Linked DNA regions of Homo sapiens: region 1 is linked to region 2. The links come from fine-mapping of genetic effects on gene expression. A gene starts in region 2. The other region holds a variant in brackets. All regions are shown on one strand. Distances are between the middles of the regions.

Region 1 (5,358 bases), 25 kb before region 2:
CAGGAGGAGCAGGAGGCGGCCATCAGCAGGGCCGGTGCATGGTGGTGCAGCAACTCTGCCCCGGCTCTCTCAGAACAGTCCTCACTGACCATATGTGCTGGGAGAGGCTGGGTGCAGGGACAGAGGGACGGCTGAGAATGTGCCATGCTGGCTTCCGCTGTGTGATAAGGGGCCAGTCCAGTGACCACAGGGCTTGACTTGGGCTGCCCCTTTCCAGGGTATTTATGTCACACGGGTGTCTGAAGGAGGCCCTGCTGAAATCGCTGGGCTGCAGATTGGAGACAAGATCATGCAGGTAACAGGTGTCCCAAAGGAGGAGAAACAAGGTTTGGGCAAGCAGGTCTGAAGCACTTGGGGGTGGGGAGCTGCCCCAGCCTCCCAGCTGGGAGAGACTCACTGCAGCCAATTGGGAACCCATACTGGCATTGCCCCAGAGGACGCTGGCTTTCTCTCCTGTGTGTCTCAGCCACAGTGCTTGGTGTCTCCCAGCCCTGGGATGTTAGGCTGGGGGCCTACTTGAATGACCTGGGCCCCCAAAGCCCTCTGCTTCCAGATCCCAGAGGGCGGGGAGCTGAGGTGAGCCTGTGTTCTCTCCTGGGGCCAGGTGAACGGCTGGGACATGACCATGGTCACACACGACCAGGCCCGCAAGCGGCTCACCAAGCGCTCGGAGGAGGTGGTGCGTCTGCTGGTGACGCGGCAGTCGCTGCAGAAGGCCGTGCAGCAGTCCATGCTGTCCTAGCAGCCACCACCATCTGCGACTCCTGCCTGCCGCCTCTCTGTACAGTAACGCCACTTCCACACTCTGTCCCCATCTGGCTTCTGCTGACCGCTGGGCCCCAGCTCAGAAGGGCTATAGCTGGTCCCAGAGGCCTGGCCTGGCCTTCCTTCCCTTCTCCCATCCCTGGCCTGGGGCCTCTGGGACCGGCTTTCTCTCCTGGACACCGAGGATTGGAAATAAGGGCCTGGAGCTGAGTAGTAGCCAGTCTGCTGTGACCACAGGCTCAGGTCCGACCCTGCTGCTTGGCCACAGCAGTGGCTGGGCAAGTGGGAACCACTATCTCTTGGGAGCCCCCAAAAGCTGGGAAATGCTGGAGGAACCAGGCCTTTCCCGCTTTTGCCTGGCTGCAGGGTTCGGCTCCGCCCCTGCCCCCCAGCCCTCGTGTGTCCACACCGCAGTGCCTCTGCCCCTCGGGGGACTGGACACACATCCTGCCAGAGGCGCTACGAAGCTTTGCCCAGATGAAGCCAGGTGGGCTCCGCGTTCACTCCCACTCTCCCGAGGGGTGCTGGCCTCCCCAGGGTTTGCCTTCTTACGGATTTAGACGAGGTTCGAGGCTCACCTATCAGGGCAGCTCTCAGGATTGTCATTTTCCTCTTTGCCTGTGGGTTTAACTTTTGTATTTTTTTAATCACAAGTTTGATACAAAATGTTTTTATCGTACTCTTTGGAGATGCCCATTCTACTTTTGAATTTAGCTTTTACTAATTCGCATCTGGAAGCTCAGCAAGTGCACAAGCCTTACTTTGGTTACCGTGGAAACCACTGCCGCCCCTCCCCGATGTGGTGCGCTCAATAAAAATGCTGGAATTCACAGGGGGCTTTGCTGAGGCATGGGCTGGGATATCGGGGTGGGGGTGGCGGTGGGATATTGGGGCCAGAGCTGTGGTTTTAATGATGGCCCCATCCCCCACTGTTCTGGGACAAAGCTCAACTACTCCCAGGCCCACCTGCCTGAAAGCCCGGGGCTGGTGGAGCCGCAGCAGCTGCACTGCGCCTGACCAGAACCACATCTGTGGGAGTGTCTGGGAGCACTGGGGTGGGACCCTGGGGTGCGTGTGCTTTCTTGGGTGTTACTGTGAAGCCCCTACTTGCTCCCAACCTCCTTTTTGCAACCTAGCCTCAGCTCCCACCTGGGAGGGGCCGTAGGGACACCCAGAGGTGCCTGGGAGAGACCCCTGCCTATAAGACTCCCTGCCTATAAGGGCACTCCGTGTATCCCAGCGAGGGACACAACCCCACGTGTTGCTGGGGGCCGTGATCTGGCCAGATGGGGGTGAGTCAGAGAGCACCTGACTACCTGCGTACCACCTCTGGGAAGGTGTTAGCACTCCTGGACCTACCTAGCACTGCCAAATCAGATTTTAAAGAAAAGTCAATAATTTTTTTTTTTTTTTGAGATGGAGTTTCGTTCTTGTTGCCCAGGCTGGAGTGCAATGGCGTGATCTTCGCTCACTGCAACCTCCGCCTCCTGGGTTCAAGTAATTCTCCTGCCTCAGCCAACCAAGTAGCTGGGATTACAGGTGCCCGCCACCATGCCCAGCTAATTTTTGTATCTTTAGTAGAGATGGGGTTTTGCAATGTTGGCTAGGCTGGTCTCGAACTCCTGATGTCAGGTGATCCATCTGCCTTGGCCTCCCAAAGTGCTGGGATTACAGGCGTGAGCCACCGCACTCAGCCGGAAAAGTCAATCATTTGAAATCTCTGATTTTTAAAGTAGGGCACCCAGTAACACATTTACTGGGTGTTGCAAGTGAAACAGGTCTGTGGACCCCGTCAGGCCAAAGTCTGCTCTGCAGAAACAAGACCTGACATTCTTTGACGTTTGTTACAACTAGATAGAGGAAGCGTCTGGAGAATAAGACCCCCACTGCCCCCGCTCCCAGTGCTGGTGTGCCCTTCAGAACCTCATCCACCCCGGCTCACATCCAGATTGAGTGGCGTGCCCTGGTAACCGTGAAGACACGGAGCCTGGGAGACTGACCTGGCCCTGGGCGGGTAGGCGTCTCGCGCTACCCAAGAGGGCTCCCCAGTGAAGTGTGGGGTCAGCACGCAGCGCTCTCGGGTCAGTGACCTTCACAACCTTATGCGCTTCCTTACACGAGGGGAGCAGGGCACCTGGCTCTGAAGGCCAGCACACCTGCCTTCTGTATCGAGCACACAGAGTGCAGAAAGGAAGCGAGTAGGTTTTAATTCAAGATACAGGCCCCTCGCGTTGATCTC[G/A]TAGAAGGAAACTCAGTGGACTGACAAGCTCAAGTCATGTATGAGGCACGTCCTGGGACCCCCACCCCTCCTGCCATAGGAAGGACAGCTTTGGGCAGAGGGAAGGAGGTTTGAGATCAGGGTTGGGCCCATACAGATTGTGTGAGGTGGTCTCAAGTACAAATACTTATCTGAGGCTCCTGAACAGGCCAGAAATTGGTGAGTCTCAAGTAGGTGTCTGGGGAAAGAGAGGGAAGGGGCCTGCCCTCGCTCCAGGGGAGCTGGTCGCCGTTTGGCAGGCCTAACAGACCTCTAAGGCACAGACTGGTAGCAGGAGAGAGCTATGTCCTGTACTCCAGATGCTGGGTAAGGAGCAGCTGGATGTGCTCAGATGGGGCTAATCTGAGAAGGTGGAGGTAGGAGAGAGGGCAGAAGAGAGTAAGCCACTTCCAAACGTCCCTCCAAAAAATCTGAAAGGAGTTACTATGCTAATGCGCTGGGCATGAATCCAATTCAGAACCAATCTGGTGGGCCCCTCATGGCTCAGAAATACTCTGGGTAGGGCTGGCTGTTACTGCAGTCACGGACGCTGAGTTATGTACAGAGAGTACGTCAGGAAAGTGGCCTTCAGAGAAAGAGCCCCATGGCCTAACCCCAAAGTCCTAGCCCGTCCACCAGCACCTCTGAGTTCACTGGCCACGGCACCGGGCTGCTTGATCTCTGGGAATGCAGCGGTGGCAGCAAAGTGCCCTTGGCTCACCCGGCTGCAAGGTCAGCCCTTCAAGCTGCTTGCAGAAACGCTGGTAGTTTGGGGCAAGGCCTTCGGCTGCAAGCTTGGTGCCCAGTCCTGCCTGAGACGGCTGCCAGAGCCTGTGCGCGCTGCCTGAAGCCTTAAAGAAAAGAGATGGCGGTGTCAAGGCGACGGTGCCACGTGCCTGGCCGGGGAGGCCCAGGAGGGGCCCGGACGAAGGCAGGCTATTGAATGGCCTCTGGCCCCAGGAGCAGAGTGGTCTCCTCTGTCCGCACACTGAGCCAGCCCTGTGTGCCAGGGCCCAACCGCTTCTCCGGCCTTCGCTGGGTGAGGCCTTCCCCAGCAGGGCACGAGGCCAGAGGCTGGGTACACTGGGTCCCTGGGTGCTAGTTCAGCTGGTCATACCCCGGTCTCTTTCTGTACAAACAGAAGTGCTGGATGAAGAAGACGACGTCGAAGACGATGGAGAAGACCCCGAGTCCAAACTTGGTTGGGTCTCCGAAGATCAGCGTCCACTGGTCTGTTAGCAGCCGGGGGACAGAAGCTGGTGTTAGGTTGGCAGCTCCTGAGGCAGCTGGAGCTTGTGGGGTGGTGGGCGGTGGGGGTCCCAGAAAACCACAAAGCCTCCAGCTACGAAGGCCCCTAGGTGGGTCTCTCCTTGGGGGCTGGATTGGCTTGGATCCCAGGTGGGGGTGGAGCCCTGGCTGGAAGGTCCCGGGAAGGCTGGCCCCGCCCGATGCCCCAGCCGCAGGGTGGCCAGCAGCCCGCTGGCTGACTCACCGTTGTTGTAGGACTGGAGGAACATCTGCAGGAGGCTGAAGCTGCCCCCGGTGAAGTCCAGGAGCACGTTGCCAATGCTCCAGCCCTCAGTGCTTTTGTAGTAAAAGTTCATGTAGGCCTGGGCCAGACAGACGGACAGACAGACGGAGGGCGGTGAGGGCTGGGCGGCTGCCTCATGCGCCTCGTGACTGCCCCTCCAAACAAAAGCGGTTCTCATTCCTCCCACTGGGGCCTTGGCTCCAAGGACACGGTGACCTTTGGGCTATGACAGGCCTCAGCCAAGGAACAGTTTGGGTGGTCCTGGGGGTAGGCGTCTCATCTGCATGTACAGCAAGCAAAGGCCCCGCACCCCCCACACCTCACAGCTCCAGCAGAGGCGGGGCCGATGCGGCCTTCCCCGTCTCCTCCACATCCCTGGGGCCAAGGCCCTGTGCTAGTTTCCCTGTAGCTATGATTCTTCTTCTCACCTCCAGGCAAGGCTGTCCCCAAACTCAGCCTGGACTTCATGTGCTTAGGGACTGGTGGGAGTGGGACTTCTGGTTTGGAATCCTGGCTCCATCACCGGAGCCTGCTGTCTTGGGCAAGTGACAGTTCTCCTAGCCTTGGTTTCCCCGTCTGTAGAGCGGGGTTAACGCCCCCCACAGGCCTGGCCGGGGCTTCCTGGGTCTGGTTGGGGGGGCGGGTCTGCGGGGATGCGCCCCAGTCTGACTGCCTGTGCCCCACGTCCTCCCATGCTGCAGAGCCCTGTGGGTCCTCTGACTGCTGTGACCTTTCCTTCCCCCCGTGAGGCAGGTCCTGGCCTCTCTGGTGGCCTCCCAGTGAGCCTCTAGTCAGTCCCTGTCTG
Region 2 (5,358 bases):
CCTCAAGGAAATTAATTTCCTTTCCTGTCCTGGGATAAGAGTCTAAGGGCTGATGACACCAACTGACCCTTAAGACTTAAAAAAACATTTTTTTTTAATATACATATTTAAATTTTTTTTTTTTTGAGACAGAGTCTTGCTCTGTTGCCCAGGCTGGAGTGCAGTGGTGCGAACTCTGTTCACTGAAACCTCCACCCCCTGGGTTCAAGCAATTCTTGTGCCTCAGCCTCCTGAGTAGCTGGGATTACAGGTGCCCCCCACCATGCCCGGCTAACTTTTGTATTTTTAGTAGAGATGGGGTTTCACCATGTTGGCCAGCCTGGTCTCAAACTCCTGACCTCGAGTGATCCGCCCGCCTCAGCCTCCCAAAGTGCTGGGGTTACAGGTAGGAGCCACCGCGCCTGTCAAGACTTTATTTGACAAGTGTCACCATTCCAGGACTGGCTGGGGTCATTCACAAGGAGGACTCGGGGAGGGATGAGCCCCAGAGCAAGTCCTTGGTTTAGTGTGGAAGATGGGGAGCTGCATTCCTGTAAACCCAAGACACAGCAGGTGAACAGTGGGTCAAGAGCAGCCAGGCCGGCATGGATTTCTGTAGCTTGGTCTCCGTGCTGCCTCAGTACACAGTCTCACGGGCCTCCTGCAGACTGTGGGGAGCTCTGGGTAAGGTCTGTGTGGAGACATCCCTGTTCCCACTCTGATTTCAGTTTCCCCAAGGCCTCCAGCATCTCCGGACATCTCCCTTACACACTCCTCAAGAAGTCTCCCTGGCTGCTCCAGCTGTCTGACCTCTGTTGGCCCGTCTCCTCCAGGGTTCTCTCTTTGCCTGCTGCAGGTCTGCCTCATCTGAGACCCTTCTCACCGGCCGGGAATGACCCCGTACCTACTCTCTGGCCTCCTCTGGGGGCCTTGCTCTTGGCGCTGGATCCCTGTGCTCTGTCCCCTGACCTTGGAGGAATTGCCCTCCTGCGTGTATGGAATGACCACAGGCCTCCCTCTCACTCTTGCTGCCCTCCGCTCCTCACACCTGCCCTGTGGCCTCAAGTTCAGGATTCAGTTTGTTGCCCAGGACAGAGTCTGGTTTTTCTCCAGAAATTAGATGCAGAATCAGGCCTAACCAGCTTCTCAAACTCACAGACTTGGTCAGCAAACATTCCCAAGCCTCAAAGGCTGAGACCCCTGGAGGAACGATGCCAGCAGAGACAAAACGACATTGAGAGGTAAGTCAATTAAAATGTTAAAAAACATCAGATTAGGCTGAGCGCAGTGGCTCGTGTGTGTAATTCCAGCACTTTGGGAGGCCGAGGCAGTTGGATCACTTGAAGTCAGGAGTTCGAGACCAGCCTGGCCAACATGGTGAATCCCCGTCTCTACTAAAAATACAAAAATTAGCCAGGCGTGGTGGCATGTGCCTGTAGTCCCAGCTACTCAGGAGGCTGAGGCAGGAGAATCGCTTGAACCCGGGAGGTGGAGGTTGCAGTGAGCCGAGATTGCACCATTGCACTCCAGCCTGAGTGATAAGAGTGAAACTCCGTCTCAAATTAAAAAAAAAAAACAAAAAAAAAACCAGATTGATAATTACATACAACTAGTGGCTTGTGAAAGCTACAAGATAGAAATGAAGTATCTCCTGACAATGGGCTCTGTCTGGCGTGCCCTTCCTATGTAAGTTCTAACTATTGTCCAGGCCTCATTCAGATGTCACATGTTTCAAGAAGGCTCCTCACCCATTCAGTCCCTTCCCAGGAGCAACCTGGGGCTAGGGGTCTAGTGTGGCAGCTCCTGTCTGCCAGGTATGAGTTGGTCCTGTCCTCTGTTCTACGACCTGGAACTCCCTGGGTCTCCTGCTTTTGGAGAGGGTACACAAATAGTGGCAAGGGCTGTGTGCACTGGAGACAGGCTTGACCTATTTATTACTTATGCGACCTTGTGGTGCCAAACAAGGAGGTGGTAACTACCTCACAGGACTTAAATGAGGAGATGTAAAGCACGCATTGTCAAGTGGGACTAAAATTGGCTGGGGGTAGGCTGGGCGCGGTGGCTCACGCCTGTCATCCCAGCACTTTGGGAGGCCGAGGTGAGCGCATCACCTGAGGTCAGGAGTTCGAGACCAGCCTGGCCAACATGGTGAATCCCCATCTCTACTAAAAATACAAAAATTAGCTGGGCATGGTGGCTCAGGCCTGTAGTCCCAGCTACTCGGAAGGCTGAGGTAGGAGAATCGCTTGAACCCCGGAGGCGGAGGTTGCAGTGAGCCGAGATCGCGCCACTGCACTCCAGCCTGGGTGACAGAGGCTGCAGACTCCATCTCAAAAAAAAAAAAAAAATTGGCTTGGGGTGGTAGTGAAGAAATCTAGCTATTACAATGGTTTGTGGCCACAGAAACAAATACACAGCGTACTAGTGGTATTAAATTTTATGGGAAGGGGGTAGGTAGGAATAACGAGGTTGAGAAACAAGGATATAAAGTGGTTACCTCTGTTGCTTAGGGCGCCTAGCGAGCTCTCACAAAACACAGTAATCCTCAATGTTACTGGAAGAGGCAGAGCTCAGGAGTCCTCCCTTCGCCCAGTGTGAAAACCCGGAGGGGAGGATGGGGTCTCGTGCTGCTCAGTCCCCCGGAGCCCCGCACTCCGCACGTCAACCGGCGCTCTCGCAAAGGTTCTCTCAGCGTCTCCAAAGCAATCTGCAAATTCCCCAACCGAGACCCAGGCGGCAACTGAGCAGAAGGTAAGGGGCTGGGAACGGCACCCACCCCGGCAGCCCGCTGCCCCTGCCTCGGCTGACCACCGCTCGGGCCCTTCCACCCGGGGGTTGTCCCGTGTCGCGAGGCCAGCACTGGTGGCGGGGAAAGGAGCCCGCCGCGGCTGAGGGCGCTGGACCCCCGGCAGGCTGCCCCGCTGACCTGCTGTGCCTCAAGGGGTCCGCCTGGGAAACAGGGGAGGCCGCGTCCGCTCTCACCTGAGCGCCCCCAGGCTCGAGGAACCGCCCTCACGGGACGCATGAGCCTCGCCAGGTGCCGGTCAGGAATGCACCGCGTTCCCCTGCCCGGCTAGACTTTGGGAGAGGCGGGTCCGCTGTCACCTGACCTCCGCCACCTGACTCGTGGGGCCGGATCTCGGCGAGATGAGCTCTGGGAGTTGTAGTTTCCGCGCGTCTTAGACGGACAGAGCGCAGCTGGGTCGGGCCGGGGCGCAGAGATCGGGGCTCCGGCGTGAGGGAAGATGAGGTCCGCTGCCAGGGACACAGAGACTCTTGGAGCCGCCAGCGCCTCCCGGCTCCTTTCGTGAGCGAAGCTCAGACCGCCCTCCATTGGGCGGAAATCAGAGCCCGTGGGGCGGGGCCCCCTTTAGGTCCCGCCTTCCGCCGCCTCTCCGCCTATAGCCGGGGCCCGCCGAGAGGTTGCGTGGAAGCTCGCCTTCCCCGGCCAGTGGGAAGACGAGAAGCCTCCATGTTGGGTGTGGCTGAAAGATTGGCAGGCGACTCCCCGCCCCTGCCCCGCCCCCCTGGGCGAAGAGCGCGGACTTGTGGGGCCGCTGGCTGCAGACTGGAGCTGCGCGGGTCAGGGAGATAATGGCTGCGCGGCCGATCACCCTCGGCATTGACCTGGGCACCACATCTGTGAAGGCAGCTCTGCTGAGGGCCGCGCCCGACGACCCATCCGGGTTCGCAGTGCTGGCGAGCTGTGCCCGTGCTGCGCGGGCAGAGGCGGCGGTCGAGAGCGCGGTGGCCGGGCCCCAGGTGAGTTGGACCCCCGGGGCCGCGCCGCCTCCAGGAGCCTCCTGACCACCCTTTTCCACCCCAGGAGGCCTCCCTGACAGCCCTTCCCGCAATGAAGTCTCTATTCCAGCTTGTCCCCAGCTTCTCCAGGGGCCCGTCTGCCTGCAGCAGCTGTGCTCATGATCCCTTAGGTCTGGTCCCAGAATCCTTCCCACCTGCTGGGACCGATTCCCCCCCGCCCCCTCCCCGACTCTCTGGCTTCTTCTGGGGGCCTTGCGCTTGGCGCTGGATCCCTGTGCTCTCTGTCCCCTGACCTTGGAGGAACTGATCTCTTGTGTGTATGGAATGACCACAGGCCTCCCTTTCACTCTTGCTGCTCTCCGCTCCTCACACCTGCCCTGTGACCTCAAGTTCAGGATTCAGTTTGTTGCCCAGGGCAGAGTCTGGGTTTTCCTCCGGAAATCAGATGTCAAATCAGGCCTAACTGGCTCCTGGCTCATTCCACAGAAGCAGAATGCGGACCAAGAAACCTTTGGTCAGCCGGGCGCGGTGGCTCACGCCTGTAATCCCAGCGCTTTGGGAGGCCGAGGCGGGCGGATCACGAGGTCAGGAGATCGAGACCATCCTGGCTAACACGGTGAAACCCCGTCTGTACTAAAAATACAAAAAATTAGCGGGGCGTGGTGGCGGGCGCCTGTAGTCCCAGCTACTCGGGAGGCTGAGGCAGGAGAATGGCGCGAACCCGGGAGGCGGAGCTTGCAGTGAGTCGAGATCGCTCCGTTGCACTCCAGCCTGGGTGACAGAGCGAGACTCCTTCCCTTCCTTCCCTTCCTTCCTTCCTTCCTTCCTTCCTTCCTTCCTTCCTTCCTTCCTTCCTTCATTCTTTCCTTTCTTTCTCTTTCTTACCAAGTCTCGCTCTGTTGCCCAGGCTGGAGTACAGTGGCGTGATCTGGGCTCACTGCAACCTCCGCCAACTGGATTCAAGTGATTCTCCTGCTTCAGCCTCCCGAGTAGCTGGGACTACAGGTGTGAGCCACCGCGCCCGGCTACTTTTTGTATTTTTAGTAGAGACAGGGTTTCGCCATGTTCGCCAGACTGGTCTTGAACTCCTGACCTCAAGTGATCTGCCCACTTCAGCCTCCCAAAGTGCTAGGATTACAGTTGTGAGTCACTGCGCCTGGCCCAGCTTTGTTTTTCACAAGCTCTTGCCACATACATGGACACGGTTGTTTAGGGTTCAGAGCCCATTTGGCTCAGAAGCATTTCTGAGGATAGGGATTTCAGGAGCACTTTGTATCTACATAGAAGCTTTCAAGATTAGTTTGGTTGGGACATTAGGGCATATTAAAAGGATTCTTACTTAAAGGACTATGAATTGGAGGCAAAGTTGGCTCTGACCCTGGTGGGGTGAGCAGGAGAGCTGGCATTAGGGGAGAGTAGGCTCAGAAAGTGCCAGTTTCTCCTGAAATAGAGCACTTCTTTTTTTTTTTTTTTTTTTTTTGAGACAGGGTCTCGCTCTGTCACCCAGGCTGGAGTGCAGTGGTGCAATCTCTGCTCACTGAAACCTCTGCCTCCCGGGTTCAAGTGATTTTCGTGCCTCAGTTTCCCGAGTAGCTGGGATTACAGGTGTGCGCCACC

Direction of the effects. Positions count from the first base shown, and alleles are read on the strand shown. Sizes are in standard deviations (SD) of each study's normalised expression.
For the expression in tibial artery of the gene that starts at base 3,033 in region 2, allele A in region 1 goes with a lower level than allele G (large effect, 0.78 SD a copy in GTEx).

What was found. PIP is the estimated chance that this variant, and not a neighbour inherited with it, causes the effect.
Region 1: its variant is fine-mapped to the expression of CTNS in tibial artery (GTEx, PIP 0.92).

The regions. Positions count from the first base shown.
Region 1 is chr17:3,659,132-3,664,489 of GRCh38, reverse strand. CTNS (cystinosin, lysosomal cystine transporter) reads right to left here. Exons shown (of 12, transcript NM_004937.3): 11 at 4,515-4,632; 12 at 1,387-4,254. The coding sequence ends at 4,121. It overlaps TAX1BP3 (Tax1 binding protein 3), which reads left to right. Exons shown (of 4, transcript NM_014604.4): 3 at 218-295; 4 at 605-1,595. The coding sequence ends at 742. It overlaps P2RX5-TAX1BP3 (P2RX5-TAX1BP3 readthrough (NMD candidate)), which reads left to right. Exons shown (of 15, transcript NR_037928.1): 14 at 218-295; 15 at 605-1,597. Among named protein-coding and RNA genes, the nearest start is that of TAX1BP3, 6.8 kb to the left of the region's middle. The variant G/A (reference allele first, on the strand shown) is at 3,005.
Region 2 is chr17:3,634,435-3,639,792 of GRCh38, reverse strand. It overlaps CTNS (cystinosin, lysosomal cystine transporter), which reads right to left and starts at 3,033. Exons shown (of 12, transcript NM_004937.3): 1 at 2,962-3,033; 2 at 2,477-2,686. SHPK (sedoheptulokinase) reads left to right here and starts at 3,543. Exons shown (of 7, transcript NM_013276.4): 1 at 3,543-3,741. The coding sequence starts at 3,574. LOC105371493 (a long non-coding RNA gene) reads left to right here. Exons shown (of 6, transcript XR_007065579.1): 6 at 708-1,296. RefSeq lists silencers at 2,668-2,757, 3,768-3,827 and enhancers at 3,038-3,287, 5,126-5,358.